Regions from separate parts of the Homo sapiens genome. Here regions 1, 2, 3, 4 and 5 are each reported to be linked to region 6. Evidence: microRNA targets listed by miRTarBase, many of them from high-throughput screens and not tested one by one. Region 6 holds a microRNA gene; each other region holds the end of a gene's coding sequence.
Evidence for each region. Region 6 holds the annotated microRNA hsa-miR-6794-3p (CUCACUCUCAGUCCCUCCCU, at 2,293-2,312, opposite strand). A microRNA usually pairs through its seed, bases 2 to 8, with sites in the 3' UTR of a target mRNA and lowers its output. Matches are read on the target gene's strand: a 7mer-m8 pairs with bases 2 to 8, a 7mer-A1 pairs with bases 2 to 7 and ends in A, and an 8mer does both.

Region 1 (5,088 bases), not on the chromosome of region 6:
GGGAGAGAGAGAAGAAAAAGAAAGAAAAGAAAGAAAGAAGAAAGGGAGAGAAAGAAAGAGAAAAGAAAGAGAGAGAGATGAAATAAAGAAAGAAAGAAAGAAAAGAAAGAAAGAGAAAGAAAGAAACTAAATTGGTTTTGACTTTTGAAGTCAAAAGCCACTGTGTATAATTATGAGAATGTCACAGTTAAGAGTTTATGTAGAATGTGATTTTTTTTTGTACCAGTTGGGAATTCTTTGGTGTCAGGTTATTTTTGTTTTATGAACTTATTTTTCTAGCTTTCACTTCCTGAATCACTGAATATAAACTAAAATGAATGAACTGAATGCTAATTATGTTTCTTGCTGGTTAAATATTTAATCCCCAATTTTCTATTTTCAATAAACTTTTTTCCTTTTCTTTCATTTTTAAAATTTTCTTTCTGTGTTTTTTCTTTCATTTTTAATTATTTCTACCTTTTTCTGTTCTTTTATTTTAGGATCTGGGGATACCGAAAGTGGGTCATGTGAAGCGAATTCTCCAGGGAATTAAAGAGCTTGGAAGGAGCACTCCACAGTCGGAGGTGTAATCATATTGGTGCTATTTCTTGGAAGAGAAGTTATTGCCACTTAATACAAAGTCCTTGGAAGCAAGTGGCTGTTCTTGTAGTTTTCTGCATAGATAAGTAAGCACCACTGAAGCACCTCTGTGGCTTGATATTTTGCTGTGGGTGAAATTTTGATTTGAGGTATTAGAAAATATTTTTGTGCCGAACAATACATTCCACAAAGCCATTTTCTTTTTGTGCAAACCTGACATGTTCAAATATATTCACAATGGTAATAAGGTAGGAGGAATCTGAGACGATTGCATTGTCTAAACAGTGGAATTGCAAAATGTTTACTTTCCATAGATCTGGTCTGATGGAATGTTCCTACTGTGCAACTGCATAACAATATGTGGTTAAAACTTCCTAGGTTTCATTACGGGGGGGCATTGGCCATTTTCTTAAAATCATAGGTTAGGAGACTAAAATATAAATTAAGTTGTGATTTGAATGTAGATTGGTATCACCTCCAACTCCTAGTGCTTAGTGGTCAAATATGTTGAAAACCTTTCCAATACTATGAATGAATGCAAATCTTAATGCACGATGTTCCTGCCTGAAATGTCTTTCTTTTTCTTGCATGTCACATCTAATACTGTAACACTTTAAATAGCTTTCATGTCAGTTTTAATGTTAATGGGATTTAATTTATTACTAAAGTACATTTTTGTTGGTTAAGGGCACTGCACTTTTCTGTTTTTTAATGTGGGATTTTGCGTAAATATTCTGTACCTAAGACTTTGTGAAAGTGTGTCTGTGCCATAATCAACAAATGATATACATCACATGCAAGTCAATTTTATTTCAATCTATCATAAGCAGTAGGCGTGCACGTTAAGAAAATTCTCTGGATATTTTCATAAAATTACATGCTCCCTTACCTGACAAAACTTGTTACAGCTTTCCAAACCAAAATTTCCACATTTTGTTTCTAATTTTTAATTTCAATTTAATAATTATTTAATATTCTATTTGAATTTATAATATAGTAAAGTGTTGATATCCAGGAATTCCCTGAGGTGTCAACTGAGATTTATATACTGACAGATAACCCAGACTCACCCGCTCTCTACAGTGACTTCTGACACGATCTTCCAAACAGAAGGGATTTAAATTTTTTCTTAAGGGCTTTATGTTGTTATTATTATTATCTCACTTAATTCTTAATTCTTATCAGGTGGATATTATTTTCCTTTTTCTAAACCACTGTACTTCAGTGTAGCTTATTATTAGAAGTCAACATTACAATGATCAAATCTTTGAAAGCCAAAGGCATACGTATCAAAAAGTCACAAAAATATCCTTAAATAAGCTTTCTTTAGCCATTATATACCAAAACATTAATTATAATATTTTAAAATTTGTATATAAGAGAAATAAACAGGGTACTGACTCAGTGGTGACAATTTTTATGAAGTAGCCTGCTAGGTGCTTAATAGATATATATACACACAGATATATACATATACACATATATGTGTATATATACATACATACACATATACATTTATATGTGTATATATATACCTACATACATATAACCTTGTGATATGGCATCATTGATATTTTCTAGACAATTATTTCCCCAGTGTTTAAAGAGAAATACTAATAGGCGAGCATTTAAAATGAACTATTGTCAGGCATATTATTTAATTACATCAAAGGAGTTTAACTGTTTGACACTTTACTCTTGTTTATAACTTGGGTATTTAACTACTAGTAAAAATCACAAAATTTTAATGTCTTTAAAATAAATGACCCTGAGGGATTCCTGACCAAGTATGTCTGACTATATATTTTACCTAAGTTGTAAATAAATGGAAATTTTCCAAAGACAGTTATATCAAGTAGTTTAAAAAGTCATGAGGCAGGGTGCTGTGGCTCACGCCTGTAATCCCAGCACTTCGGGAGGTTTAGGTGGGTAGATCACCGGAGGTCAGGAGTTCGAGACCAGCCTGACCAGTGTATGAAACCCCATCTCTACTAAAAATACAAAAATTAGCCGGGTGTGGTGGCACGCACCTGTAATCCCAGCTACTCGGGAGGCTGAGGCAGGAGAATTGCTTGAACCCAGGAGATGGAGGTTGCAGTGACTGAGATCACACCACTGCACTCTACTAGCCTGGGTGACAGAGCAAGACTCCCATCTCAATCTCAAAAAAAAATAGTCATGAATTATGCAATTATTCTAATTGTATCTGCACTTACGAAGTCAGAGGTCTCCTTTTTCAGTCCCTCTGATAGTCCCACCTAAGTGCTGTCCTGCTCCTGTGAACACTTTCCTGTGCAACCAAACAGGAGGTGCCAGGTTCCCAGAACTCTCTAACATTACAGATCTCTGTCCATCTTTACTAAAAAAAGGAAATGTGAGGGAAAGAAGGGGAAGAACTCTAGCATAAATAATGTATTAATATAAATATCTATATTGATTTTCACCCCCCATTCCCCTTTGCTAATAGAAAAGAGTCTAGCTATGATGTGTCCCAAATTTAAGAGTGTGATGTGAAGGACTGAATTTTTGTTTGTTCGTTTGGTGAGCTTTTCACTCGTAGGTGACATCTTTTGTATATGCTGTAAAGTCTCAGTTAATGGAATCCTACAGTGCATTTCTGGCTAGCTCGGTTGGTAGAGCGTGAGTCTCTTAATGGAATCCTTAATTAGCTAGAATTTTCCTGCAAATGGCTTTGGATGAGGGAAATTCTATAAAATGACAATTTGGATATACTTTTTGTTAAATGAGAGCAATTTTCTCTGTATGCTTTGTCTATGCATGGCTGTGCAGGGCCCAAATGACTTCACTGACACCTGTTTCCAGGAGGGGGTCTTCAGAGCCTCCTTAGGCTCTTGTCAGTATCATAAATAATTCCTCTTCTTATAGCGGATGGGGTTACCAAAAAAAATAAAAAGTAGGGAAGAGCTTCTCCATGGGATCAGATCACAGCTTTGGGGAGTGGGATGGGGCCTCTATGCTTTGATCTATGCATGAGCTGGGGTGAGAAGTTCCCACCTGCACCTGACTGCAATGACTGTAATGGCTGGAATTGTCACCTCTTCTCCCTGATAGGCTCTTCCTCACCTGGAGGATCGGGGCTGGTGGGAGGGCAGGGAAGGGGAGGCCATCAGCCAGAATGTATTTTCTTTCAGTTCCATTTCCTGAGGAAGAACTTGCTTTTAAAGGAGGAAAGGGACAGAATCAGACCTAAATAAAATTCCTGAGTATGCAATATTTCTCTTTAGTGTCTCTTCACCTCCCTTTCTGAGTTTCTTTCCTACATCCTGGCTCTTCATTTTCCCAATGCCCAATATAATCATGGTTGCTGAAATTCTCACTGCCTTCTACTTTCCTTTCCCCATCAATTAACCCACTACAAAATGACCCCTTTCATTTCTCGCTTAAGCATACATGGTGGGTCATTTAACTAAGTGTTAGGAAGAAAACAATTTAAAGACACTAATTTTACAGTTTGCGTTCTGTAAAAGGATACTTGCTGGATAATCTAAGTGAATTGATGGATTAGGTCATTTGGGATTGTGATATATATTGTTCTTGCTGACAAGAAATGACCCATGAATGTCTAGATCTATCCTGTCCAATATTGTAGCTACATGTGGCTATCTAAATTTAAATGTAATTTAATTAAGCCAGGCATAATGGCACAAGCCTGTAATTCCGGTGACTCAGGAGGCTTAGGAGGGAAGATGGCTTCAGGCCAGGAGTTTGAGACCAGCCTCGGCAACATAGTGAGACCCTGTCTCTGAAAAAAAATTTTTTTAACTAGCTAGGCATGGTGGCATGCGCCTGTAGTCCCAGCTATTCTGAAGGCTGAGGTGGGAGGATTGCTTGAGACCAGGAGTTCAAGGCTGCAGTGAGCCATGATCATGCTACTGCCCTCCAGCCTGGGCAGCAGAGCAAGACCCCTACTCTTTAAAAAAATTAATTTAATTAGAAACTCCATTTCTCAGTTGCACTAACTACATTTCAAGTGTTCAGTAACCATAGTGGACAGTGCAGATGTAGAAAATTTCCATCACTGCAAAAATTCTATTGGACAGCACTGGTGCAGATCATTGCTACTCAAAATGTGATCCATGGGCCAGCAGCATCAATATTACCTGGGAGCTTACAGAAATGCAGAATTTCAGGCCCACTGCAGATCTACCGAATCAAAATCTTCCTTTAGCAAAATTTCTCAAACGATTAGCACTGGCCTACATCCATTTTATCCTTCCTTAGCTATTAGGGATGTGAGGTCCGAGGGCTTCAAAAGGTCCCCGGAATAGCTTGTTCCTTCATCCACTGTGTCCTATTCATTCTTCAGCTAACTCCAGCAATGAGCTGAAACTCATTCATCACCCTTGCTGAGTTTTCTTCTCAATCCTTATTCCTAATTCTGGTTCTAGATGAGCCCTACCTACCCAGTGGTTGTATTTTTGTAGCCAGTGTGGGACACAGGAGATTGGCAGACCAACACAGCTAGCCTCTCTCTAGCCCTCCCTCCAC
Region 2 (5,074 bases), not on the chromosome of region 6:
CTCTGCCTTTTCTTCTAAGTTTTCCTCCTTTTCTTTGCACAGGTGTCAGGTAGCACCCCAGGGGTGCAGGAGCTGGTGTTTTCATGACAAACAAAAATGGGGAGGTTGACTCTATCTCAAAACTAGCTAGCCCAGTCCACAGGGCAGGATAATCCTGATGGCGTGTAGCCACATTTGCTGCAAACCAGATGTCTGCGATGGATATAATGATACCCCCGGGGCTCTTCTCAGGGGTGAGGACAGGTGCTGGTTCCTGATGGTGCATGGCTGGTGTCCAGTCATCTTTAGCTGGGCAGTGGCCCCTCGAGGCTCGGGCTTCCCTGCACAAGGTATTTTTGATCCTTGCCAGCGGAGGGAGAGAGAGTTATCTTGGTTTCCTTTCACTTGTTTTCGGGCTGCTTCAAAGCAAACATCCCAGTTCCAAATGTTCTTTGTGGTTTGAATCCTGGCAGAGGCCAGGGTCACATCCAAGTGGGACTGGCCTCTAGCACCACCTTCTGGCCACAGCAGAGAATGGGATTCCATCAAAGCCTCTCAACCAGCCGTTTCCCTAAAGAATCACCCAGATCTTAACTGCCCTCTCCACCTTCTTTTTTTTTTTCCCTCCTATTTTACATTCTATTTTCTCATATCCAGCTTTTCTCTCTAAGCCTAACCAAATGCTTTGGTGAATGATGCTTGGAAAAGCTGGAGTTTTAAAAGGCATTCATCCATTTATGAACTTTCTTCCAGCCCAGGATCCCTGCAGAGAACCAGAGGTTACAAATCTGCCCTCCTTTCTCCCCTAAAAGGTGGCTGAGGGGAGGAGAGGTGCATGTAGCTCCAGCTATAGCAAATCAGTGCCCTGACTCACTGGGGAGACCCAGGGGGTTGGGATGTTGCTGACACCTCATGGGCCACCTCATCAGCCCATCTTTGTAGCTTCAGGTTCAGCTCTGGGTGCTGCAGGCAGGGACCCCTCTGCTCCCTGCCTGAATGCAGGGCCAGTCTCCAAGGAACTCTGTCTGCAGAGTAGAAAGAGCTGTGGGCTGGGAATCAGGGGCCTGAGGGAGCCCCTGCCACTGCCTGCCCAGAACCAGTGCTCCTCATTCTCCTGCTGACAGCATGCATGTGCCTTTTGGCTAACACACACTCTTGTCTAATTCCCAGCCACCTTCACCCCAGGGATGAGTTCCAGTTGGTTTAAGCCAGACTGGTGCATTTAATTCTGGCTGCAACAACTGGATTCTGTTAAGTGCCCATTGCTAAGCCAATGAGCTATCTGCTGGGCTGTGGGAAAGAGAAATGCAGTCTCCTGCACGGGAGGGTGTGAGAAGGCCACCCAGGCAGCCTGCAGCTAGAGCTCGGCGCTGAGAGAGCACAGGAGAGTCAGACACCTCCATTCTGGTTACACTTTTTCCAGATGCTGAATGGAGACTCGCTGGGAAAGCCCGCCTCCAGACAATTTCAACATAGCGCCGGTAACACCCTAGTTTTGCTCAAACTCTGACTTGTGCTATCTGTCCCAGACAGTTCACGACTGCCCGTCACTTCCCTCCTTCACACTGCACCAGGAAAAGGCCACACCTCCCTACACAGCAGCAGCCTTTTAGGAAATGTGCTCTACAGGAAAAGTGGTTTTTCTGATTAAACATCAGGAACTAGAGTCAACAATCGCTGTCCTCTCCCGTGCCTGTCACGCTCCACTCCCCACCCAGCTGCAATGTGGCCTTGATTTTCTCATCAGTAAAATGGGAAAGCTGGATTTGGAGGCTGGAAGAGATCTCACAGCTTGACCACCCTAGTAGGAGGGAGGGAGACCAGACGGAGGCCAGGCAACCGACCCAGGCAGCATCTGGCTCAGACGCAGACACATCTTCATGTTGAGGGACCTATTCTTACACAGCAAAACCCAGAGAAGTCGACTGCTCAGCCTGAGCCTGTCATCCCTATATAGACTCAGCTTTTAGGAGAAGAGGGAGAGTTGAGGAGATAGCATCGCTCTCTGTATCAGTGTCTGATGATCTGGAGTCTGCCCCTGGGGTCACTCAGTCACTCAACAAACATTTGTTGAGCTCTTAACGTCATATATGGGTGTGAGCTCTGCCCTTCGAGGCTGTATGTTCTGAATGATGACTCAGTGATTTACCAGCCTTTCTCAGAAAAAAGAAAAGTCTTTAAAGTTTTGGAGGATTTTAAAGCTGAAACAGGTTTTCGGTTTGTTTAACACATTCCCCATTCTGAACCTTTGAGAATCTAATAAAAGCTATGGTCCTTTCTCCAGAAAAATGCTCATATGCAGAGATTCAGGGAAAAAACCAAACTTGGCACGCAACTTCCGGGGACTCTTGTGAATGGCCTGAAGCCACCTGTGACCCATGACTGATGTCCCCAAGTTCCTCCCTCCCCGTGTGCAGAGGGGGCTCCCCCGAGCCTGGGAGCACAGGCCCCATGCCTCCGTCACACTCCACCAGGAAAAAGTCACGCCTCCTCAAAGCAGCAGCGACCTTTTCAGGGATATTTTCAACAAGAAAGTGGTTTTTCTGCTTAAACATTAGTAACTGGAGCCAACAATCACCGTCCCCCACATTCCTGTCACTCTCCACTCCACACCCAGCAGCAATAAGGTTTCACGGAGTTTTGGAGACTCCTAGCCTGAGAATAAATCCAAGTCCACAATGAGGAAGAAGGAAGGTTGGGTTGGGACGGGAGGATGCTGAGGACATTCCACAAACCATCCAAGCCCTAGATACCCCCAATATCCCACGTCCGAGGACTCCTACAAACCTCCCTTAAGCACCCCCACCTAATTTCCCAGCTACTGGGTGAGGCAAGCTTCATTAAAACACCAGGACCACCAACAGAGCCAGGGTGCAAACAATGTCAGTTGAATAAAAAAAAGAAATCAATAAATAATCAGGAAGGCTAATGAGGAAAAGAGAGTAGCTGGGGAGTAAGAAGATGAGGTATGTGGCAGTTACCATTCCTGGGATGTCCTTGACCCAGACCCCCAGTGACAGCCCCAAGATGGCCAGCAGGGACTTGACCCTGAGCTCAGGCCCTTGGGGAAAATGCTGCTGGCAGCCTCCTGTGTGGCTTTGGAGGTTACGGGCACCATATTGAACAGTCTGAGAATGAGAATGTACGTTCCATTCTGACGCACTGCTGGGTGGTGTTGAGTATCCTCAGAGCTTCGTTGCAATTCAGGTGCTGGCTCAGGAAACCAGAAAAGATGTTCCCAGCTACGGAGCAAGCAGGGCCGCTGGTGGGGGTCCCTTTTCCCAAGTAAGGGCTTTTGTTTCATTTCAGCCAATGCATGCTTTTCTTTCCCAAATACAAAGGCACATGGAAGTGGTCAGATCCGCTCTCGCCACGATTAGAACCATGAGACTGACTACTCAAAGGAACAACTGCTTGGGAAGAGGCATCTGCAGGAGTCAGAAACACGGTGCCAAGTTTGGGGTTTTTTTTCTTTTCTTTTTTTTTTTTTTTCAGAGACAGGGTCTCACTCTGTTGCCCAGGCTGGAGTGCAGTGGTGTGATCACAGCCCACTGCAGCCTCGAACTCCTAGGCACAAGAGATCCTCCCTCCTCAGCCTCCCTAGTAGCTGGGGCTACAAGTGTGTGCCACCGTGCCTGGCTAATTTTTTTAAATCTTTTATTTTTGTAGAGACAGGAGTCTCACTATGTTGCCCAGGCTGGTCTTGAACTCCTGGGCTCAAGTGATCCTCCCGCCTCGGCCTCCCAAAGTGTTCAGATTACAGGTGTGAGCCACGGCACCTGGCCTCAAGTTTCTGTGAAAATCTTTGGGGTAGGAGCCTCTGGTGGCTCATAAATGAGCTTTGGGAAGATGACAGGGTTATCACGCCAAGCAAGAGGCCAGGCTTCGTGCAAAGAAGGGCAGCATCTCGCCCCGAGCGCCAACACCGCCTGGCACGTCTCTGTGCTGGAGGTAATCGCCACTCAAGTCTCTGCCCATCTTCCTGGGAAACTGTCCTGTCTCTCAGAATATAGGCATCTTCCACATTCATTCCCCAAGCTTGCCCCAGGAGCCAAAATGATTTTAGTGTGTGGAGGTTGAACCTTTCCCAGCGTCTCCCCAGCTCTAGGGCAGCAGTGGGGGGACGTTGTCCCCACTCAAGACAGGTTCCAAGACATGCTCTGCCACGCTGGCAGAGCTTAGTGACCTTGCTGAGTAGATGCTGCCAACGGCTGGGTGCAAGAGGCTGTGAGCGGTGCCCAGGCACACACCTGAGGCTGCCCCTCCAAGCTCCGGGATGGAACGGCTCCAGCAAGATGCTGGGGCTGGAAATGCAGAGGTGTGACAGTGCGTCCATCCTCAGCCCTTCACTGCGTCATCTCCCCTTGAAGATCCGGATTTTATTGATGGAGGCCAAGGTGGCCGTCACGTTAGACTCAAAGTCTGCATCGTGCACCCCCGTCTTGCGAAAAGCCCCCGCGGATGGGTTGTTCTCCCAGTAGTGGTGCCAGTTCCCTTTGCTGTCTGCCCCGAAGCCGTACAAGTCCACCTGTGGGAGCAAAGCAAAGATGAGAACCAGACAGCAGGGCTGCTGGTGGCACCTCTGAGAAAGGAAGCCTGTAGGCGTTCCTGGAATCCCACAGGACCATAAACAGCATTTCCAAGGACTCTGACTAACCCTTCATTAAAAACCCTTCTCTACGTTCCTGGAACTCTCAGAGTCTTGGTGAAGCAAATGCAAGTTAAGTAAAACTCAAGTCTAATTCCAGAAGCACCCTGAGAGATTACTGCATCTGGGTGGTCTCAGGGGCCCGGGTCTTACCTCTGCAGCAAGTGCAACCTATTCTCCCAGGATTGAGGAGCTACAGAGGGAAGGAATAGGAAGGAGGGCGTGGAATGGAAGAGAGTGGAAGGAGAGCAGGGCTTTGGGGCCAAGCAAACTGCCCCAAATCCCAGCTCTGCCACTCCGTGGTGCCCTGGGCATGTGAAGTCACTTCTTTGAGCCTCACTTTCCTCATCTGGAAAATGGGTCCAAGAATCATGATTGCAGTGAGGCAGAGGGCAGGGCTGATCCCTTTCTTCTCTGTGGCCAACATTCATCTGGTCCAGGCGCCCT
Region 3 (5,072 bases), not on the chromosome of region 6:
GGCGCACTATGGCTTCCCCTGGGCCCACACGCACCTGTGGCTGGTTGACGAGCGCTGCGTCCCACTCTCAGACCCGGAGTCCAACTTCCAGGGCCTGCAGGCCCACCTGCTGCAGCACGTCCGGATCCCCTACTACAACATCCACCCCATGCCTGTGCACCTGCAGCAGCGGCTCTGCGCCGAGGAGGACCAGGGCGCCCAGATCTATGCCAGGGAGATCTCAGCCCTGGTGGCCAACAGCAGCTTCGACCTGGTGCTGCTGGGCATGGGTGCCGACGGGCACACAGCCTCCCTCTTCCCACAGTCACCCACTGGCCTGGATGGCGAGCAGCTGGTCGTGCTGACCACGAGCCCCTCCCAGCCACACCGCCGCATGAGCCTTAGCCTGCCTCTCATCAACCGCGCCAAGAAGGTGGCAGTCCTGGTCATGGGCAGGATGAAGCGTGAGATCACCACGCTGGTGAGCCGGGTGGGCCATGAGCCCAAGAAGTGGCCCATCTCGGGTGTCCTGCCGCACTCCGGCCAGCTGGTGTGGTACATGGACTACGACGCCTTCCTGGGATGAGGGCGCCTGTGCCCCTTGCCCGCTTCGCTCCTGTGCTTTCCTTCGCCCGTGTCTTCCCTCCCTTCTCGGCCCCGCCACCTGCCCAGCGTGCCCTGGCTCTCCAGAACCTTCTATCCCACAGTCAGGCCCCAGAGAGGGCAGGACAAGCCTTGTCCCGATGCCTTTGACCGGCAGCTCTGTGTATTGGTGGATAGATGCAGAAACAAGGAAGAAATGGAGTCTGCTCCTGAGAAGCTTCAAATTCAGGCCAGGAGAGAAGTCTTAAGAAAAGACCTCCAGCAGTTACACATTCATATCAACCAGCACAACACGGGATGGCGCCCAAACTCCGGCGTTCACAAGAGGAGACGTGACGTGGTGGGCTGAGGTTAATCAGGGAAGGTTTCCTGGGGGAGGTGATCCTTGAACTGGCTCCCGGGGAACATTCAGAGCATGATTGGTAGACAGAAGGGTGCAGAGGCGCCCAGGGGAGTACATTGCCCCGTGCAAAGCAGGGGCATTGGGGACTGTCTTGAGACCCTGAGGGGGTCAAGCCCCTCCTTCCCCAGCTGCCCCTCCTTCTAGAACCTCTGCACATCTAGCCTCTGGCCCTCCTCTTCACTGCCTCCACCTGCTCCCGCTTGCCATCCCTGTCTCCTCCATCCTGGCTGTGCAGTAGGAATTCCAGGCTCCTCCCTGTGTCTTTGCTGTTCTTCAGACTCCATTTATAGAGAATGAGGGCTGATAACAGGAATACAGTGGCAAAGACTAGACTGTGGAAAGGGTTCCAGAAATCTTTTTTCTTTTTTAATTAAAAAAAATATTTGCAGAGATGAGCTCTTGCTATGTTGCCCAGGCTGGTCTCAAACTCCTGGGCTCAAGCGATCCTCCCATCTCAGCCTCCCAGAGTGCTGGGATTACAGGTGTGAGCTACTGCGCCCAGCCCCAGAAATCTCAGTGCTGTTTGGAGCTCCATTTCTCATTTGATGACTTGCTCTGCGTGGGGAGGTGGGGTCTCATTCCCCCAACTTCCTCAGGGAGGACCCCTGCCCTCCGCTGCTCCTCTGTCCTGCTAGCCTTCCTCCAGGAAGCACACTGGGTGCAGATAATCAGGACATTCCAGAGATCCCCAATTTAAGAGGGTCATTTCCATCTCAGGGGACTCCCGGATGGGTGTTTCCGCTCTCAATAGCCCCTCTTGTTTTACCAGGAAAGATCCAGTTAAATCACCCACTGAGGTGACAGCTCATTAGCGGGGAGAGAGATGGAGCATCGAGTGACACTGGGCCATCCAGGCGGCTCTGCTCCCACCAGACAGGAGCTAGGCCTCACTGGCAGGGGGGCTGCCCACAGCCTTTTCAGGGGCTCGCTTGGCGGGTGACGGGGCCGCAGCCAGGCCTTCTCTCCCTGCCCCTTGGTGACCCCGTGGCTTCCTGTCTGCTGGCCTCTCCTGCTACTTATCACTTCACCACGAACTCTCTGCCTGAGACTGGGGAAGTAAGCGGGTATCTTCTCAGTGAGCATAGGTTGGGGACTGTGATCTTGAGAAGCCATGGGCCAGCAATACCTGCTTTTCTGAAGCCCCCAAGGAGGGCTCTGACATTCTTTTTAAAAACACCACAAAGCAAAATTCCCAGGACATGTGTAGTTTTGTTTGTTCAGTATCCCACAACTTAAGGCTGGGAGATGGAACTCTTGGTTAAGGTCGATTTTTCTGTCTGGCTTCTCCGCACCTTCCACTTGCTCTCTGGATCAGGCAGATATAAACTTTCTAGCGCATTTTGAGAGAGGGCTTTCTTGGGTGAGGGAGCATGGCAAAGTCGGTTTCTCTCTGGACTGTTTACACTTCAAGGCGGTGGATTTAGAGGAATCCTGGCTTTCATTTTCAATGCCAGTCTGAGACATGTTCCCAAGCCGGGGCTCTTGTTCACACCACTTACTCTGGCCACCAACAACAACCCAGGCCAGACAGAGCATCTCTTTTTTTTTTTTTTGAGACAGAGTCTCTGTCGCCCAGGCTGGAGCCCAGTGGCGAGATCTTGGCTCACTACAACCTCCACCTCCCGGGTTCAGGCAATTCTCGTGCCTAAGCCTCCCGAGTAGCTGCGACTACAGGCGCCGGCCAGCATGCCTGTCTAATTTTTGTATTTTAGTAGAGACAGGGTTTCACCATGTTGCCCAGGCTGGTCTCGAACTCCTGAGCTCAGGCAGTCTACCCACCTCAGCCTCCCAAAGTGCTGGGATTACAGGCGTGAGCCACCGCGCCCAGCCAGAACATCTGTTTTTACACCCAGAGAGCGCCCCTCGTTAGGACAGAACCACGGTGCCCAGAGCCAGGAAGCCGCCCTCCTGGCGCCCAGCATCTGAGCTTCTACACGTGATGGGCGGGCTCAGGAGAGGACAGGGAGTCGTGGTGGAAGTTCCACAGCTGGCCGCGTGGGGGGGCCCTTGCACCGCACTGCCGCCTCCTGACTGCCCCTATCCCCGCAGCCCCTGTGCCGGATTTCATTTCCCTCCTCTCTCCCAGGGTACCTGGCCCCAGCACTCTCCCATCTGTTCTTCAGGAACCGACTCCTCTCCAGTTGCAACACCAGGGAGAAAGGGGCCTCCACATGCCCAAGTACCCCTGCAGGATGAAGGGCAGGCCGGCCCTTGATGTGCCATTTCTGAATAATAGTCACTGCCGCCGAGTCTAGGATGTCCTGTTCTAACTCAGCCCTGCCTCGGATGCACCACCGATCTGTGCAGAGTGGGTGTGGGAGTGTGGGTGAGGGTCGAAATGCCAAAGGTCTACTTTCCAGAATCAAGTGCCTTCTGCAAATCATGTTGGAAAAGTCCAAACCTGGAGATGTCCCTGTGCCTCCGCCCCTACCCACCCCTTTTCCTTCAGCTGTGTTAGGAAGGAGAAGTTTTCAGAACCCTCTAGGCTGGTGGCTTTCAAACTTCAGACCATGATCTGCAGCAAGAAACGTGCCTTCCATCATAAATCAGTCCATTTGTTTACAACTGTGTTCCAAGCAGGTTTCATAAAGAAATTCTTAACCTTAGAACCTCGGATATCCTCTATGTTTTAGTTTTCATTTTTTTAAAATGCTTCTTAAAATTCACTAAATTGGGCTAGGTGTGGCTCATGCCTGTAATCCCAGCACTATGGGAGGCTGAGGTGAGAGGATCACTTGAGCCCAGAAGGTTGAAACCAGCCTGGGCAACATAGTGAGACCCCATCTCTACAAAAAGTTTTAAAACCAGGTATGGTGGTGCCCTCCTGTGGTCCCAGCTACTCGGGAGTCTGAGGTGGGAGGATCACCTGAGCCCAGGAGACTGAGGCTGCAGTAAGGTGTGATTGCACTATTGCTCTCTAGCCTGGAAAACAGAGTGAGACCCTATCTCAAAAAAAAAAAAAAAAAAAAAGGAAAGAGTGATGACAACAGCCCAGGGAGCAGCCCCGCTCAGAACCCAAGTCCCAAGTTCCAGCACTGTGTTCCCAGGCAGGCTGTTTGCCTCTTCCTGGTCTGGAAGCCCTTGGGTCCTATGGTGGCGGCAGCTCCCACAGTCCAGGTTCCCTGGTGGGGACCAATGATTCCATCCGCATGGAAGCCCACGTGTGCACTTAGGGGCCCATAAATGGCAGAAGGGCCCCTCCTTTGGGAGACCTTGTCAGTCAGCATCTCTAGGGCAACCGTGATTGCCATTTGTAGAGGGGAAGGAATCAAGGGACTTTAAGCTAGATCAAAATCTGGGGACAAATTCTCCTGCTAACTGCAAGTTAAAATAGGCCCTTCTTACTGAATTTCCCTGTTTGTTTCTCTGCAGACAATGCTTTAGCCCTACTCTTGGGCCCCCAAGTTAGCAGAGTAATCAAAGCTTCCTACCGTTTGGCCTACTATTCCAGACTAGTCCCTCGAGGGGTTCCCTTCCAAAATATGCAGGGCTCAGGCTCCCAATTCCGGGCCTGTCTGCTTTGCTTGTGTTTCTCCTGTCCCTGTTCTCCCGGAGGGCCCAGGTGGAACTCACGACAGGGAGGGAGACGCTTCCCAAAAACCTGCAGGGCTATTTCCCAGAATTTGGTTTTCAAGTACAAAACTTTTTGTCCTGTAAGATATATGCAGCCTCACAGAAGCAGCCTCTGCCTCCACTTTACCAGCTACGTTTTTATCTTAAGCACATGGGGCTCCCTTAGAACTTACTCCACTGATTTAAAAAAAAAAAACTGCCTGGCAGCATCTCAGTGTCAGAGTGAGCACGGCACAGGAAAGGCCCGTGGTGACGAGGGTGAGGTGGCCACAGTGACCGGACGACAAATGAGACTCTGCAAATGAGACTCCAGAGGGTGAAGATCTGCGGTCTCCAGACATCATAGGCCATGTGACCCACTAGGGGCCGCTTACCCCTGGCCGTCCGCTGGCTGAACTGAACGCATTCCCTCTCTCCGCAACTCTCCCGTGAGGCTGCACCCGTGTGGGTAGCACTGGAAGCGGCACTGTTTGCATTGTACATAGGAAGGAAGGAAGTTCTTCCAGCCTCACCA
Region 4 (5,088 bases), not on the chromosome of region 6:
TATTTTTAGTAGAGATAGGGTTTCACCATGTTGGCCAGGCTGGTCTCGAACTCCTGACCTCAGGTGATCTGCCCGCCTTGGCCTCCCAAAGTGCTGGGATTGCAGGCGTGAGCCACTGCACCCAGCCAACTTCACAATACCTTAAAGGACAGTGGATCATGCACCTTTTTTCCTATGGTCTTTCTGGAGTCCTTCTGCTGATACTCCAGGTCCCAGAGGCCCTGCCCCTGGCTTCCTTGTCGGAGCCCTCCTGGAACACCCTCCTCTGTGGCCATCCCCAGCTTGAAAGCCTCACACTTTGTGTCCCAAGCAGTCCTTGTCTGGAAATAACCCATCACCCACATTTCTGTTCTAGTCTACTTTTTCTTTAAATTGACAGACACAACTAAAATTGTATGCATTTGTGATGTTTTGAAATATATACACATTGTGGAATGGCTCAATCTAGCTAATTAATATATGCATTGTTGTTTTAGCTTTCAAATCCATGTCTTTGATTTTGTAGTGAATATAATTAATTCCTTTAAGGCCCACTGAATTCACAGCCAGTGTTTGTAATTATGTGTCCTGCCGCCCCCCCCCCGGCCCCGCCCACCCGAGTCTCTCTTTCTCTCTCAATGAATACCAAAAGTTCAAGTACTATAGAGTTGGGGGAGGTTTGAGAATATTTTTGACATAAAAAAAGGGCCCTTATTGTCACTAAGGTTGGGAACCACTGCCCCATGGGACATGTGGGAGCCATGGGAGTAGCACTAAGTTCTCTGGCTCTCAGTTTTCTCGTCTGTCAAATGGAGGTAAATCATAACTGCCTCTTTTTCTAAGGGCAGGAAACAGAATGTTTTGTACTCGGAAGCGGGGCCAGGGAGCAGTGCTCTTGTGATCCTTGCTGCTATGCTGGGAAGCCTCCATGAGGATGAGATGAGAGAATAGATGGGAGGGCACATGCAGAGGTGGCAAAAGCAGGCAGGGGATGCATACTCCTTCAAGCCTCATTATTATTTTCCTCGTTCTGGGTCCAGCTGGACCAGCTGAGCCCAGAAGCCTAAAACCCATGGAAGTCTTTCCAGGAGCAACGTGTTCTTTTGCCTTCCTCCACCCTTAGTCACTTTTCTGTGGAGAAACAACAACAGAAAGCAGCTCCTGTATGTGACTAAGAAACATCTACAAACTTCCTCTTATCTAGCCTAGTAACTGCTGTGGCCTCAGAAGTTGCAGTGTTTGTCTCTGTTTAGTCAGCGTTGCCTAGGAAACAAAGTTGTTCTCTCTTTACCACTATGTGACTGTGGGGCCAGTTTTTTCCCCTTTCTTGTAGAGAAAGGCTTGATGACCAGAGAGGTTTGGGGCGTTGTTGGGCTATTTTCTAGGTTTCCTTTTTTCATCTGCTTTTTCTCATTCAGCTGCAAGTCTGGCATGGGAAGTCTACAGAAGATGAACCAAATAGCCACAAAGTCTCTGAGCTAATTTTGAAAGGTGGGGATTTGGGAGTAAGTGGGGACTGGGAGAGCTGGTCAGGGTGAGGAATGGCTGCCAGGGGGCTTTGAATGCACTCGTTTGAAGTTTGTATCTGTACCAGCAGCTGTGGAATCTGCATGCCATGAACCAGTTGGCAGGTATAGACAATGAACCTGGCATTATGAATAGCAAGGTTGGGAGCAGGTGGGGAAATTGGGATTTGAGAGGCCAGCAAGCAGGAGTTTGCAATGTTCTGAAGGGTTTTGGTGATTAGAAAAGAACAGGTCAGCTGGGTGCAGTGGCGCATGCCTATAATCCCTGCACTCTGGAGGGCCAAGGAGGCAGGTTGCTTGAGTCCAGGAGCTCGAGACCAGCCTGGGCAACATGGCGAAACCTCCATCTCTACTAAAAATACAAAAAAATATATATATTCAGGAGTGGTGGTGCACACCTGTAGCCCCAGCTACTCAGGAGGCTGAGGTGAGGATCATCTGAGCCCAGGGAGTTGAGACTGCAGTGAGCTTTGATGGCCCCACTGCATTCCAGCCTGGGCAACAAGAGTGAGACCCTGTCTCAAAAAAAAAAACCAAAAAAAAAAACCCAAAATGTCAACATGTATGACCTTTACAGAGGAAGAAGCATGTCATTTTGATTACATTTAGGCAGTGGTTGATGTAAGGGGCGGGGGGCAAGATATCTTGGTCACCCTGAGGTTTGTGGCTCAGGAAAATCAAGGAGTTCTGTTTCCCCAATTTCAAGTGGGAAAAGGATAGGTATATATGCTACCAGAAGCTGAGATGGAATGGAGTCACTTGAAGAGAGGTGATCGTTTCCCTTGGGAACATAGTGGGCTTAGAACACAGCTCAGGGTCCAGAGGAAGTTCAGGTTAGGGCGTGGTAAAGGAGACACTAAGCACTCATCAACAACCAATCAGAGAAATGCTAGGTCTCTGGATGCTGGGGACATGGAGCTGGGAAAGGGTGATGGGTGATAATGAACCCCAAAGAGAGGTGGAGGAAGGAATCTGGAGCCAGGAGCCTTAGACTTGGCCCTACCCACGTGGTTGGTGGGTTTGGTGAGAGAACTTTCAGCAGTGTCCCTGAGAACTTTCAGCAGGGACTGAGGATATCTTTCCTTGGCTGGAAGTAAGGGGAAGAGCAAAGGAAAGGGGGGTGGTTTTGCTACCTCATACATTCTCCCTCCTTCTCTTACTAGAGCCTTCTTAGCTCCTTTGCCAAGTCAAGTGTCACATGTGGATTGGTATTAAGGAGAATGCATTAAGTGAGCCCAGTGATGTTTTCAGAAGACAGAAGAGGCCCACGCCTGTTGATTTGGTTCCGCTCTTCTCGCTCCCTCCTATGTATACCCTGCCTGTTTCTTTTGGGCCTTCCTCGGGGTATCTTTCCTCCCAAATCACCCCCTCAAGCTACAGTTGTGTGTTATGAGTCACCTTGCCACTCACTCCGAAGCTCTCATATGAAAGCGGAGCAGGAGAGGGAGGAAGGATCTGGGCTTGAGTCCTAATTCCCGTAATAGCCATGTGACTTTGGGCAAGTCACTTAAACTCGCTGAGTCTCAGTTTCTTTATCCAGACAGTGAGGGCAAACAGCATGTCCTTCATATGAGTATTGTGCAGATGACACGAGATCACGGCTGCAGCATAGGCCTGGCACTGACAGGGTGCTCAAGGGATATTCAGGGGGTCAGCAAAACAGCCCCTACTGGGTGAGGGGCCTCTCCCACCCAGTCCATTTATACTCAGTCAGACACCAAGTTTATTTTTAGAAAAACAGAGCAAAGTTTATTGAAATTTCAAGCTACATTTGGAAAATCAAAATCCAAATCCTGGAACCATACATCAGGATAAGGTGTCAAAAAGTGGAAAGTGTTCACTCTCACAAAACCCGCTACAGACAAGCTTTCTGGGCACACCTCCCAGGCTCCATTGGATCAAAGCCATCCCCTTGTTCATCCCTCATCCACAGTAGGACACCATCCTTCTGTTCACTTGAAAGTTTTCCACAATAATTACAAAACAAAACAAAAAACGTTTTCAAATGACACTGTGAAGCCCAAACTGATCTTCTCTCAACCCCATTCTATGTAGTCAGCACCAGTGAATGGTGGGTTTGGCATTCAAAACAGGACTTCACGTTTCAGTGGACAGCTGGGGAAAGGGTTGCAGCAGCAAGGCATCCGTGGCCGCATTCAGAGGCTGGCCCCCCTCCTTGCCTTTACTCTCGAGTCTTACTTAACCTAAAAGACAAACTGGGTCAACTTGGTAAATGAACACAGTCAAAGACTTAGCCATAAGAGGTAAGGGACCAGTCAATACTCCCAAGGCTGGTTAGGCCCTTCAACATGTAGGTGGATGTGTATATGTATACATCGCTACACTAAGATACAGATCTAGCCCTATGGGTATATATACGCATTTATGGCTATATAGAAAAACTATGCCAATACTAACCAAACAGAACTTTGTAAGCGGTCATCCCAAAGCTGTAATCCCACACTGGGCTGTGCACAAAGCCATGCATTATACCATATTAACCAACAGAAGGCTGACTTGGCTCAATCTCTCCCATCTGTGTCCCCTGCCTTCACGAAACAGAGGAGAAGAGAGAGGTTGCCTCTGCTTAAAACACAAGTGGCTTCTTCATAGGAACAGTCGTTGTCAGGTGAAGCTGTTGAAGATGTCCATGGAGATGAGAAACAGACCCCTTAAACTTTCTGGAGCAAACTGGTGTCACACCTCAAACTACCCTTCTCCTTTGCCAGTTGCAGCTAAGTTGCCCAGGCCCTGGGAGCCCCCAGGGCGCAGTAGCATTAGAGGCTCACTGGCTTGGTGTTACTAGGCCCCATGCAACTCAGCCTCCAGAGACCTGCTCTTGTCAGGGGTCTGTCGCTGGAGTGGACCCAGGTGGCCATGTCCTTAGGACATCTCTTGGCACCAGCTGTGCTAGGTGTAAAGTTCTCCTCGTGAGATGATGCTTGGGGAGCCAAAAACAAACTGGAAAGAACTAGGTAAAACAAGTTTAGTGGCTCTGCCCACCCTGAGGACAGAGCCACTTACACCGCAGAACCACCAGGGGCCTCGGGCACTTGTGGGGATTCGGGAGCTGGCTCTTCAGGGCTCAGACAGGACTGGAACTTCTCCAGCTGCTCTGGGCTTGCCAGGGTCTTCAACAGGGTGTTCTCACGCTCTAGCTGGGAGTTCTTCTCCACCAGCTCTCGGATCTGCTCCTTCAGGATCTCCACCTCCTCTCTCACAGCATACATCAGATGATTCTTCACCAGATCCTGCCAATGAGGGAATCATAACAAAGCCATTCCTTAGCCATCGTGGCCCCTCTGCAGCACCTTTGCTCTGTCATTGGTGTGCCTGTGCTGTCCTTAATGCCAGGGCCCTCCAGCCTTCCCTCAGTGAACTGGTCTGGCAAGTCCAATTCCTCGTTCACCTTTCTCTGAAGCACTTAAACCCTCATTCAGGAGAGCTACATGATTTGGCTTATGCTGGAGTTGAGAGCCCAGCTTTGAACTAGATAGGTTCTCCCCTGCAAGTTTCTAATGACTTTCAAAGCTGGCTGCTGAGGGGCCTTTGGGGTGACACTTCTGCTGTTTGCCAGTGGTTT
Region 5 (5,088 bases), not on the chromosome of region 6:
GAAAATGGCAGGAGGATGCAGGTGAAATAATGTCATTACTCTATCTGGAAAATCTGCTCAGTATTTAATAGGGCTGGAATTTTATTTGTTCTATAACTTTGAAGATTTTTCGGCATGTTCGATGTTAAGGTTTATATATTTAGATAAATATAAGACGGCAAACTGAAATGCCATCTTCTCTAAACGAAAATGCCATCTTTTCCTCAAAGTTACATTGTAACACAAATTTCATTCCTGGACACTTTGTGACTGGTTCACTAGTGTGTGTGTTTTAAGAGAGCATATTTAGAGAAATAAACACGTATTAGATGCAAAAAAATCATTTTTACTAACATCAGTACTACATTACATACATGAATATATATTTAAAACATTTTTTAATTTGTCAAAACTCCTTCCCCTATATTATTATAGATTTCAGTTGTTTTAGAAATCAAAAGTAATCTCTAAACAAATTAAAGGCAGTGATTCTCAGAGTGGGATTGTACTGGAATCATCTGAAGGGTTTTAATGTGGCCTTTCCCTGCTCTTTTCAAGAGATTCTGGAGAAGGTGGCAGCGTGACCCATCAGCTAGTAATGCCACTGGGGGTGGACACGTAGGGTGTGCTTCCTTCAGGGGTTCCAGGGACGCTGGTAATCAATAGGGGCAGCCTCCGCTGTTGGCAAAATGGGTGAGCCTGTCACAACGGCTGCCTTTGTATTCCCCCTCAGAGTGATCCAGAGTTTGTGCAGTGGAAGAAAGAGTTGAACGAAACCTTCAAGGAGGCCCAGCGGCTATTGCGTCGTGCCCCGAAGTTCCTCAACAAACCTCGGTCAGGTACTGTGGAGCTCCCAAAGCCATCCCTCTGTCACAGAAACAGCAACGGCCTCTAGCACCCAGAAACAGGGAGGGTCCTCGAGGAGGACACACCAGGGTCTCAGCCTTTTGGGGTGAACGAGGATGAGGCATCTGATCTATTCGCTACCGGGACTCCTCCAGGCTCCCGAGAGGAGTCGGGACCCTTCGGCTTGGGGTCAGCTCAGCTCCCTGCCTTGTCACATTTGTCTGCATTAGAAACTACTGAAGAAATAAAAGTTCTTTTTCTTTGCTACACACTTTGGTACCTATGAACCTAGAACTTGAAGTGACTCCTACTTATCACGTAAATTTTTATGTCTGATATCAAACACATCTTAGACTCCCCAGAATGGAATTTAAAGATGTTCAGTGTTGGGTAACAGATTGCCCTAAGCATTGCCACATATTCTGTCTAGTCACTGCTGATTTTCTATGTCTTTGCTCCATACTGCTGGGGGATGGGAGAGCCACAGTGTGTTTCTTTTGTGCACTTCGCAACTGACTTCTTGTCCTGGGGTTAAAAGTTGAAGATATTTTCTGATGATATTAAAAGTTGAAGATATTTCTGCACTTGGGCCCTCCTCTGGGAGCCGCACCCACATGACTGCCCTGCCTCTGACCAGTCTGTTCCGGGGCCCCCTCAGCCAGGTGGGAATGACGGACACGTACTATCCAAGTGTATGGGATTAACTAATCATTGAAGGCATTCATCCGTCCATCATTGGAAAGATTTACAGTGATTCTGAAGGACAGGCCGTGGAGTTTTAGGTTTCAGGGGCAAGAGCAGTTTTCAAAAGTCTTTGAGTCCAGTGTGCACGAGTCGACAAGCAGTACCTGGCATGCAGGAGCACTCATGGGTGAGTCCGTCTCAGGTCTCGACAATTAGCAGTTGTGTGACAGTCATTCTGGTTCCTTCTGCCTGACCCTGGGAGACATATCAGTAATGGATGTACAAAAGCAGGTCTGTTTTATGTCTTAGTATAATTTCAGATGAATTGTATTGAAAAAATGCTGAGGAATGAATGTGTCAAAATGGGTTAACTGTGTATATTGACTTTCATGTCGTCATGCATCTGTCATGAATGAATGATACTTTGCACTGGGCTGTACGACAGTGAGGACCTTAGGGCATGAAGCCTTTTTCCTGGTCCCAGCAGCATCTGCCCTGTGAAGTTTGTTTTCTCCCACTGCCTCCAGGCCCCACTGATACCCCCAAATAGATGCTGGGTTATGAGAACCAGCGAAATCCCCCATGTCATCAGTCTTAAAAAAAAAATTTTACAAATCCACGTATTTGTCCCATTCTTGGAGTAGTTTTAGTGTATGTCTTTACATTAACTACTAACAGTATAAATAACTTGACATCGTAATTGTCTGCATCCTGTCCTTGATATTTTTAGCAGTTCCAAATCTTTGTTTTTGTATTTGTTTGCTGTGTTCATGGGCAAAGTAAGTACTTTTTAATGCAGTTATTTTGAGAGTTTGGAAGATAATTACCAAAAGGGTCCATTATTTCATAAGAGTTACTTTGCAAAAAAAAAAATGTGGGTTTTTTTTTTTGTCTATCTCAACTACTAGTTGGGGTTTAAATTAACATACATTTTCTACTATCTGTTATTTCCAGTGTGGGAGGAGGGATGTACTACTTACATGCATTCTCCTTATTTAAAAAGGAAGAATAGTATTCAAATTCTGTTGAAACACACACACACACACACACACACACACACACACACTCCAGAAGCAGAAAAGCCATTGTTCTTAAAGAGTGAATGTCTTCCCAGCCCTGGTTAATTATAGCTGTGACTGATGCCGTTCCCGTCTGCATCTCAAGCTCATAGGTTCTCAGCATGTGCAGTTGAGGATGCGCTGGGCCTCATGCCTGTTCTAGATCTCCAGGATAAAGGGCCTGCTGTTGACTCCACCAGGGTCTGGGCTTAGCGTCTAATATCTCGTACCTAGGGCGTGAGCTGCACAAACGTGTTCAGAAAGATTATTCAACTTTCCCATACTTGTTCTAAAATTGAGCTGATCCGCATCTCTTTCAAAAACTAGAATTTCTGCTCTAAGAATAGAACATAAGGCTCCACTCCCTTTTAGAAAAGATATATGAATTGGAAAATGCTCTGAAAGTCCTTTTGCTTCAAACAAAAGTGTAAACTTTTACACTTCCCCAACTCACATTTGATTTGTAATGATATGGTTGAGAAGTACATCTAGATGTCATTTATTAAAAGTGCTTTGTAAGACTAGATTGAGCTGTTTCTGAGGGCGGTCACCAGTTGTGTTGGGGTCTGGTTTGAGTGCCTTCTGCCAAAATGTTGTGATGGAGGTGTTTCTGCGACCAGACACAGGATACCGCTGTGTCTGCACCCGGTTGCCTGCATGGCCAGAGGAAAAGTCAGTTGGATTAAACATCATGGTATACTTGGCTGTTGTTTTTTTTTAATTTTTTAATTTTTTGGGATAGGGCCTCGCTCTGTCACCCAGGCTGGAGAACAGTGGGATGATCATGGCTCACTGCAGCCTTGAATTCCTAGGTTCAAGCAATCCTCCCACGTCAGCCTCCTGAGTAGCTAGGACTACAGGTGCATGCCACCTTTCCTGGCTAATTTATTTTTTGGGTAGAGATGGGGTCTTGAACTCTTAGGCTCAAGTGATCCTCCTTCCTTGGCCTCCCAAAATGCTGGAATTAGAGATGTAAGCCACCATGCCCAGCCATAGTACTTGGATGTTTTAGAAGGTTTTCCAAGTATTACATAATTCCTAGATGTTCACCCTTATTACACTCCAACTATTAAAAAGGTCAAAATTCAGCCTATTTTTTTTCATTATTTTAGATTCCTGTGGTTGGGATATTTTAACATTGATGAGAAAAATAATTGAGGTTGATATTTTTACAAAATCATGCGGTAATAAGTCTTGATTTCATGATTCAAAAGAATCAATAAAGCCTAAAAATAATAGATTACTTTAAGCTGCTATGTAAGATATATATGGAATAAATTAAAAACCTTTGTGAATTCAGGTTTATTATTTTTAACCTAAAACATTCTCTTTGGTTCATTCATCCCCTCATGTCATGGGGGCTCATTGGTTTTCCTTCTTTGTCATATTTAAGTATGATTTTTCAACAAAACTTCTAGAAGTCAGCTTATTATGTCACCATTCATGCAAAGTGCTCATGCCTCTGATTGGTCCATTCACTGACGTGACAATTTCAGGTCCTATGTTTAAAAAGAAGGGGCTGGCCGGGCACGATGGCTCACGCCTATAATCCCAGCACTTTGGGAGGCCGAGAGGGGCGGTTCACGAGGTCAGGAGATTGAGACCATCCTGGTTAGCAGAGTGAAACCCCGTCTCTACTAAAAATACAAATAAAAATTAGCCGGGCGTGGTGGCGGGCGCCTGTAGTCCCAGCTACTTGGGAGGCTGAGGCAGGAGAATGGCATGAACCCGGGAGGCAGAGCTTGCAGTGAGCCGAGATTGCGCCACTGCACTCCAGCCTGGGCGACAGAGCGAGACTCTGTCTCAAAAAAAAAAAGGAGGGGGGCTAAATATCCAGTGAGATGCACTGAGGAAAGGAAGCATTTTGCTGAAGACAGCAGCAGCAACAAACAATGGTCTGTTTGTTGCAAACAAGATGTAGCTTGATTTCTGGTCTGACATATGCCATATACAGATATTAGAAACGACTGTTTGAAGGCCACACTGGTCATCTACAAAGTAATGTTTACCAATTGACGACAGGGATTTAACTAGATTAAAAAGATCAAAGTGTGGTTTTTCTCTGCTTTTTAAAATTTCACTCGGAATTTGTAGCTGGGCCAATTCAACACATTTTACTTTTCAGTGGAATTGATTTTTCTAATGTTTCAGAATTTTAACATATCAAGAAGAAAACAACGTTCTCAAAGTCTGGCCTCTTTAGCATGATGTAAACCTATAGAAATGCTTTGAAATGTGCTGGTGTAAGATAAGAGTTATCTTGTATGATTTAATCATATGCAGTGTTGTCTCAGTTACGTTCAGGGAAATGTTTCTGTGTCATTCAGAGATGCTTGATGAATTAACACCTCCCACCCTGAGTGAGGGGTTGACTTGTTGGGAGATGATTTGGGCTTCACTGGGATCTGTGACAGGTGGGGGCTGGGCTGGGTGTCACAAAGAGAATAGTGGTAGAAATCGGGCGAAGGAAGAAAGAAGTTACTGGTAAAAATCATTACACCATAAAGCACCAAGGAAATAA
Region 6 (5,088 bases):
GATGGACAACCCAATGTTCACCAGTGGATGAATGCATCTACCATTCAATGGAATATTACTCGGCTATAAAAATGAATGAAGCAGTGACACAAGCTACAACATGGATAAACCTCAGAAACGTTATGTTAAGTGAAATAAGCCAGTCATAAGAGGCCACAGAGCATACGATCCCATTTATAGGAAATATCCAGAAAAAGGCCAGGCATGTGGCTCACGCCTGTAATCGCAGCACTTTGGGAGGCCAAGGCAGGCAGATCACCTGAGGTCAGGAGTTCGAGACCAGCCTGACCAACATGGTGAAACCCTGTCTTTACTAAAAATACAAAATTAGCCAGGTGTGGTGGCGCATGCCTATAATCCCAGCTACTCAGGAGGCTGAGGGAGGAGAATTGCTTGAACCTGGGAGGCGGAGGTTGCAGTGAGCCGAGATCACGCCATTGCACTCCAGCCTGGGCAACAAGAGTGAAATTCTGTCTCAAAAAAAAAAAAAAAAAGAAATATCCAGAAAAAGCAATTCCACAGAGAGAGAAAATAGATTAGTGGTTGCCAGGGACTGCAGGGAGGGAGGAATGAGGAGGGAGTGTGTAATGGGTGTGAGGTTTCCCTTTGGGGGTGATAAAAAAGTTCTGCAACTACATAGATCTAATGGCTGTACAGCATGGTGAATTACTAAATGCTGCAGAATTGTTTATTTATTACTATTAATCATTATTATTATTATTATTATTATTATTATTATTATTATTTTGAGACAGAGTCTCGCTCTGTTGCCCAGGCTGGAGTGCAGTGGTGGGATCTTGGCTCACACCAACCTCCACCTCCCGGGTTCAAGCAATTCTCCTGCCTCAGCCTTCCAAGTAGCTGGGATTACAGGCATGTGCCACCACGCCCAACTAATTTTTTTGTATTTTTAGTGGAAATGGGGTTTCACCATGTTGGCCAGGCTGGTTTCGAATTCCTGACCTCAAGTGATCCACCCATCTTGGCCTCCCAAAGTACTAGGATTACATGCATAAGCCATTGCACCTGGCCTATTCTTTATTATTTTTAATTTCATTTTTCAAGACAGGGTCTCACCCTGTTGCCCAGGCTGGAGTGCAGTGGTGTGATCATGGCTTACTGAAGCCTTGACTTCCTGGGCTCATAGGATCCTCCCACCTCAGCCTCCCGAGTAGCTGGGACTACAGGGGTGCACCACCACGCCCAGCTGATTTTTTATGCTGCCCAGGCTGGTCTCAAATGCCTTAGCACAAACAATCCTCCTGCCTTGGCCTCCCAAAGTGCTGGGATTACAGGCCTAAGCCACTGCACCCGGCCCCGAATTGTTCATTTTAAAATGGTTAAAAAGGCCGGGCGCGGTGGCTCATGCCTGTAATCCCAGCACTTTGGGAGGCCGAGATGGGCAGATCAACTGAGATTGGGAGTTTGCAACCAGCCTGACCAACATGGAGAAATTTTAGTCTCTACTAAAAATACAAAATTAGCCGGGTGTGGTGTTACATGCCTGTAATCCCAGCTACTCGGGAGGCTGAGGCAGGAGAATTGCTTGAACCCAGGAGATGGAGGTTGTGGTGAGCTGAGATAGTGCCATTGCACTCCAGCCTGGGCAACAAGAGCAAAACTCCATCTCAAAAAATAAATAAATAAATAAATAAAAATAAAATAAAATGGTTAAAAAAGTAAATTAAATTTTATGTTTCATGGATTTTAACATGACAAAGAGGTCACAGGGGAAGAGCAATTATTTTATTTTATTTTATTTTATTTTTTGAGACAGTTTCGCTCTTGTTGCCCAGGCTGGAGTGCAGTGGTGTAATCTCAGTTCACAGCAATCTCTGCCTCCTGGATTCAAGTGATTCTTCTGCCTCAGCCTCACAAGTAGCTGGGATTAGAGGCATGTGCCACCAGGCTTGGCTAATTTTTGCATTTTTTTTTTTTTTAAGTAGAAACGGGGTTTCTCCATGTTGGTTAGGCTGGTCTCGAACTCCCGACCTCAGGTGATCTGCCCACCTTGGCCTCCCAAAGTGCTGGGATTACAGGCATGAGCCAGCATGCCAGGCTCTGGAAGAGCTATTATTAATCCCATTTTATGGATGGGAAAACTGAGGCTCAGAGTGTAGGACCAAGAGATCCACAAAGCCTGAGGGCAAAGAAGCCGGAGATGAGCCCCACCCTGCCCTCCCAGGAACCAGGGTACTGACCGCTTAGCCACCCAGCCTTACCTCAGAGAGATCGTCTTGCTCAGGGGTGTTGGAACCACCACTGTCCTGTTCCTCCAGATGCACCACATCTAGGGAGGGACTGAGAGTGAGCACGAGCTGGGTTCTGGGCCTGCTCACCCCCAGTCCCCCTGCGCCCACCAGCCGGCACCTGGAAAGGGGTCACGGGTGAGGCCCAGCTGGCGGATGATGTAGCGGGGGATGTCCGTCTTCACAAGGTGGCCCTCCTTGGCGTGTCCTTCGGCCGCCTCCAGCAGGTGGTAGAACTCCTCGGGGTTGAATTCCTGAGGCAGGGCAGGAGTGGGCTCACCACAGGCTCCCAGGGTCTACCAACCCACCCCTACCCATGCCCAGCCCCCTCACCAGGCACTCCAGCAGCCTCGCAGGGCGTGAGATGATAATAAGCAACTTCTTCACCAGCTGAGTAACGAAGGCCACCTCCAAGCTCTCAGAGCGTTCATAGGCCTGTGGCAGGGGACACAGAGGGACAGGGCTCATAGGCACTCTGCCTCAGCCCGGCCCCTCTCTCAGCCCCTCAGAGTACATACTGCTGCTACTGTCCCATCTTACAGGTGAGGAGACTGAAGCCCAAGCCACACAGTAAAAATAATGAGGCTGGGCACGGTGGCTCATGCCTGTAATCCCAGCACTTTGGGAGGCTGAGGTGGGTGGATCACTTGAGGTCAAAAGTTTGAAACCAGCCTGGCCAACATGGTGAAACCCCATCTCCACTAAAAACGCAAAATGAGCCAGGCGTGGTGGCAGGTGCCTGTAATCCCAGCTACTTGGGAGGCTGAAGCAGGAGAATCCCTTGAACCTGGGAGGCAGAAGTTGCAGTGAGCCAAGATCACACCACTGCACTCCAGCCTGGGTGACACAGCGAGACTCTGTCTCAAAACAAAAGCAATGACAAACAAACAAACAAACAACAAAACCATAGCGAGACCCTGTCTCTACAAATAATAAAATTAGCCAGGTGTGGTAGTGTGTGCCTGTAGTCCTAGCTACCTGGGAGGCTGAAGTGGGAGAATTACTTGAGCCCAGGGGGCTAAGGCTGCAGTGAGCTGATTATACCACTGCACTCCTGCCTGGGTGACAGAGAGAGAGACCCTGTCTCAAAAAAAAAAAAAGAAAAAAAGAAAAGAAAAAGAGGCCGGGCACAGTGGCTCACGCCTGTAATCCCAGCATTTTGGGAGGCAGAGGAGGGTGAATTACTTGAGGTCAGGGGTTTGAGACCAGCCTGCCCAACATGGCAAAACCCCATCTCTACTGGAAGTACAAAAATTAGCTGGGTATAGTGCCACACACTTGTAATGCCAGCTACTTGGGAGGCTGAGGCAAGAGAATCGCTTGAACCAGGGAGGTGGAGGTTGCAGTGAGCCGAGATCACATCACTACACTCCAGCCTGGGTAGCAGAGTGAGACTGTCTCAAAAAAAAAAAAAAAGAAAAGAAAAAACTAATATCTTATTGCAATACTTGAAAAGCCTAAAATTAATGCCAAAAATCTATCATAAGCCAAAATATCAAAATTTAAGCCAGATGTGGTGGTACATGCCTATAATCCCAGCTACTCAGGAGGCTGAGGCAGGAGGATTGCTTGAGCCCAGGAGTTCAAGACCACCCTGGGCAACATAGAGAGTCCTCCATCTCAAATGAAAAAGAAAAAGAAAAAGAAAATTAAATAAAGACAGAATCCAACAGGCTGTGCCTAGCCATATTGTAACTTGAGCCAAAAAAAAGTATGCACCAACCTATATGTGTTTTAATGTGTCTTTGAAAATGTCTAATGGTTTCAATGAAAATAGTATTATTGATGAGTTTGCTTTCATTAAAACCAGGACAGTAAAATTATAACACATTCTGGCTTGGTTATAAATAAAATATGTAAACTTAAAATAATGTTGGGTTTTCATTTATCTACTTTTCAAGTTTTTCAAAAATTAATTTAATGTTCTGGGGGAAGAAATAATTACTTGCTTTACCCTGGTCCTGGTCTCAGCCCTAATACCTATTGGGTCTTTGTTTGTTTGACTTGTTTTACTGTAGAGACAGGGTCTCGCTATGTTACCCAGGCTGGTCTGCAACTCCTGGGCTCCAGAAAGCCTCCTGTCTCAGCTCCCCAAAGTGCTGGGATTACAGGGGTTAGCTTCTAACGCCTATTGTTTATCTTCTGTCTCTTCCTGCTATTAATAGAATGTCAGCTCTCCAAAGACAAGAATTTTTGTTTTATTTCCAGTTGATTTCCCAGCTTTTAGGCTAGTGCCAGGCCCATAGTAGGTGCTTAATAAATATTGGTGGGGGCCAGGCATGGTGGCTCACACCTGTAATCCCAGCACTTTGGGAGGCAGAGGCAGGTGGATCACCTAAGGTCAGGAGTTAGAGACCAGCCTGGCCAACATGGTGAAACCCTGCCTCGACTAAAAATACAAAAATTAGCCAGGCATGGTGGTGGGTGCCTGTGATCCCAGCTACTCGGGAGGCTGAGGCAGGAGAATGGCTTGAACCTGAGAGGTGGAGGTTGCAGTGAGCCAAAATCGCACCACTGCACTCCAGCCCAGTGGGATAGAGTGAGACTCTGTCTCCAAAAAAAATAAAATAAATAAATAAATAAATATTGGTGGAATTAATGAATGATCAAGTGATCCTCCTGCCTCAGCCTCTCAAGTAGCTGGGACAGCAGGTGTGTGCCACTACACCTAGCTAATTATTTTTATTTTTATTTTTATTTTTTTTGAGACAGAATCTCACTCTGTTGCCCAGGCTGGAGTGCAGTGGCGCAACCTCGGCTCACTGCAACCACTGCCTCCCGGATTCAAGCGATTCTCCTGCTTCAGCCTCCTGAGTAGCTGGGATTACAGGCACGTGCC

Region 1: the mRNA of DGKH is a reported target of hsa-miR-6794-3p. The part of its 3' UTR that is shown has no 7-base or 8-base seed match.
Region 2: miRTarBase lists ST3GAL1 as a target of hsa-miR-6794-3p. Seed matches in the 3' UTR shown: 7mer-m8 at 3,485-3,491 and 7mer-m8 at 2,575-2,581.
Region 3: the mRNA of H6PD is a reported target of hsa-miR-6794-3p. Seed matches in the 3' UTR shown: 7mer-m8 at 3,917-3,923, 7mer-m8 at 3,960-3,966 and 7mer-m8 at 4,778-4,784.
Region 4: the mRNA of TSC22D3 is a reported target of hsa-miR-6794-3p. Seed matches in the 3' UTR shown: 8mer at 3,342-3,349.
Region 5: the mRNA of GRK3 is a reported target of hsa-miR-6794-3p. Seed matches in the 3' UTR shown: 8mer at 2,605-2,612 and 8mer at 4,185-4,192.

The regions. Positions count from the first base shown.
Region 1 is chr13:42,228,620-42,233,707 of GRCh38, forward strand. DGKH (diacylglycerol kinase eta) reads left to right here. Exons shown (of 30, transcript NM_178009.5): 30 at 480-5,088. The coding sequence ends at 569. Among named protein-coding and RNA genes, the nearest start is that of AKAP11, 41 kb to the right of the region's middle.
Region 2 is chr8:133,455,431-133,460,504 of GRCh38, forward strand. It overlaps ST3GAL1 (ST3 beta-galactoside alpha-2,3-sialyltransferase 1), which reads right to left. Exons shown (of 10, transcript NM_173344.3): 10 at 1-4,507. The coding sequence ends at 4,334. Among named protein-coding and RNA genes, the nearest start is that of ST3GAL1-DT, 110 kb to the right of the region's middle.
Region 3 is chr1:9,264,305-9,269,376 of GRCh38, forward strand. It overlaps H6PD (hexose-6-phosphate dehydrogenase/glucose 1-dehydrogenase), which reads left to right. Exons shown (of 5, transcript NM_004285.4): 5 at 1-5,072. The coding sequence ends at 565. Among named protein-coding and RNA genes, the nearest start is that of SPSB1, 26 kb to the right of the region's middle.
Region 4 is chrX:107,709,994-107,715,081 of GRCh38, forward strand. It overlaps TSC22D3 (TSC22 domain family member 3), which reads right to left. Exons shown (of 3, transcript NM_198057.3): 3 at 3,228-4,756. The coding sequence ends at 4,526. Among named protein-coding and RNA genes, the nearest start is that of TSC22D3, 63 kb to the right of the region's middle.
Region 5 is chr22:25,721,577-25,726,664 of GRCh38, forward strand. It overlaps GRK3 (G protein-coupled receptor kinase 3), which reads left to right. Exons shown (of 21, transcript NM_005160.4): 21 at 713-5,088. The coding sequence ends at 874. Among named protein-coding and RNA genes, the nearest start is that of MYO18B, 18 kb to the right of the region's middle.
Region 6 is chr19:12,849,530-12,854,617 of GRCh38, reverse strand. It overlaps MIR6794 (microRNA 6794), which reads right to left and starts at 2,358; the gene lies at 2,291-2,358. It overlaps MAST1 (microtubule associated serine/threonine kinase 1), which reads right to left. Exons shown (of 26, transcript NM_014975.3): 8 at 2,583-2,684; 9 at 2,371-2,503; 10 at 2,223-2,290. RefSeq lists an enhancer at 1,929-2,429.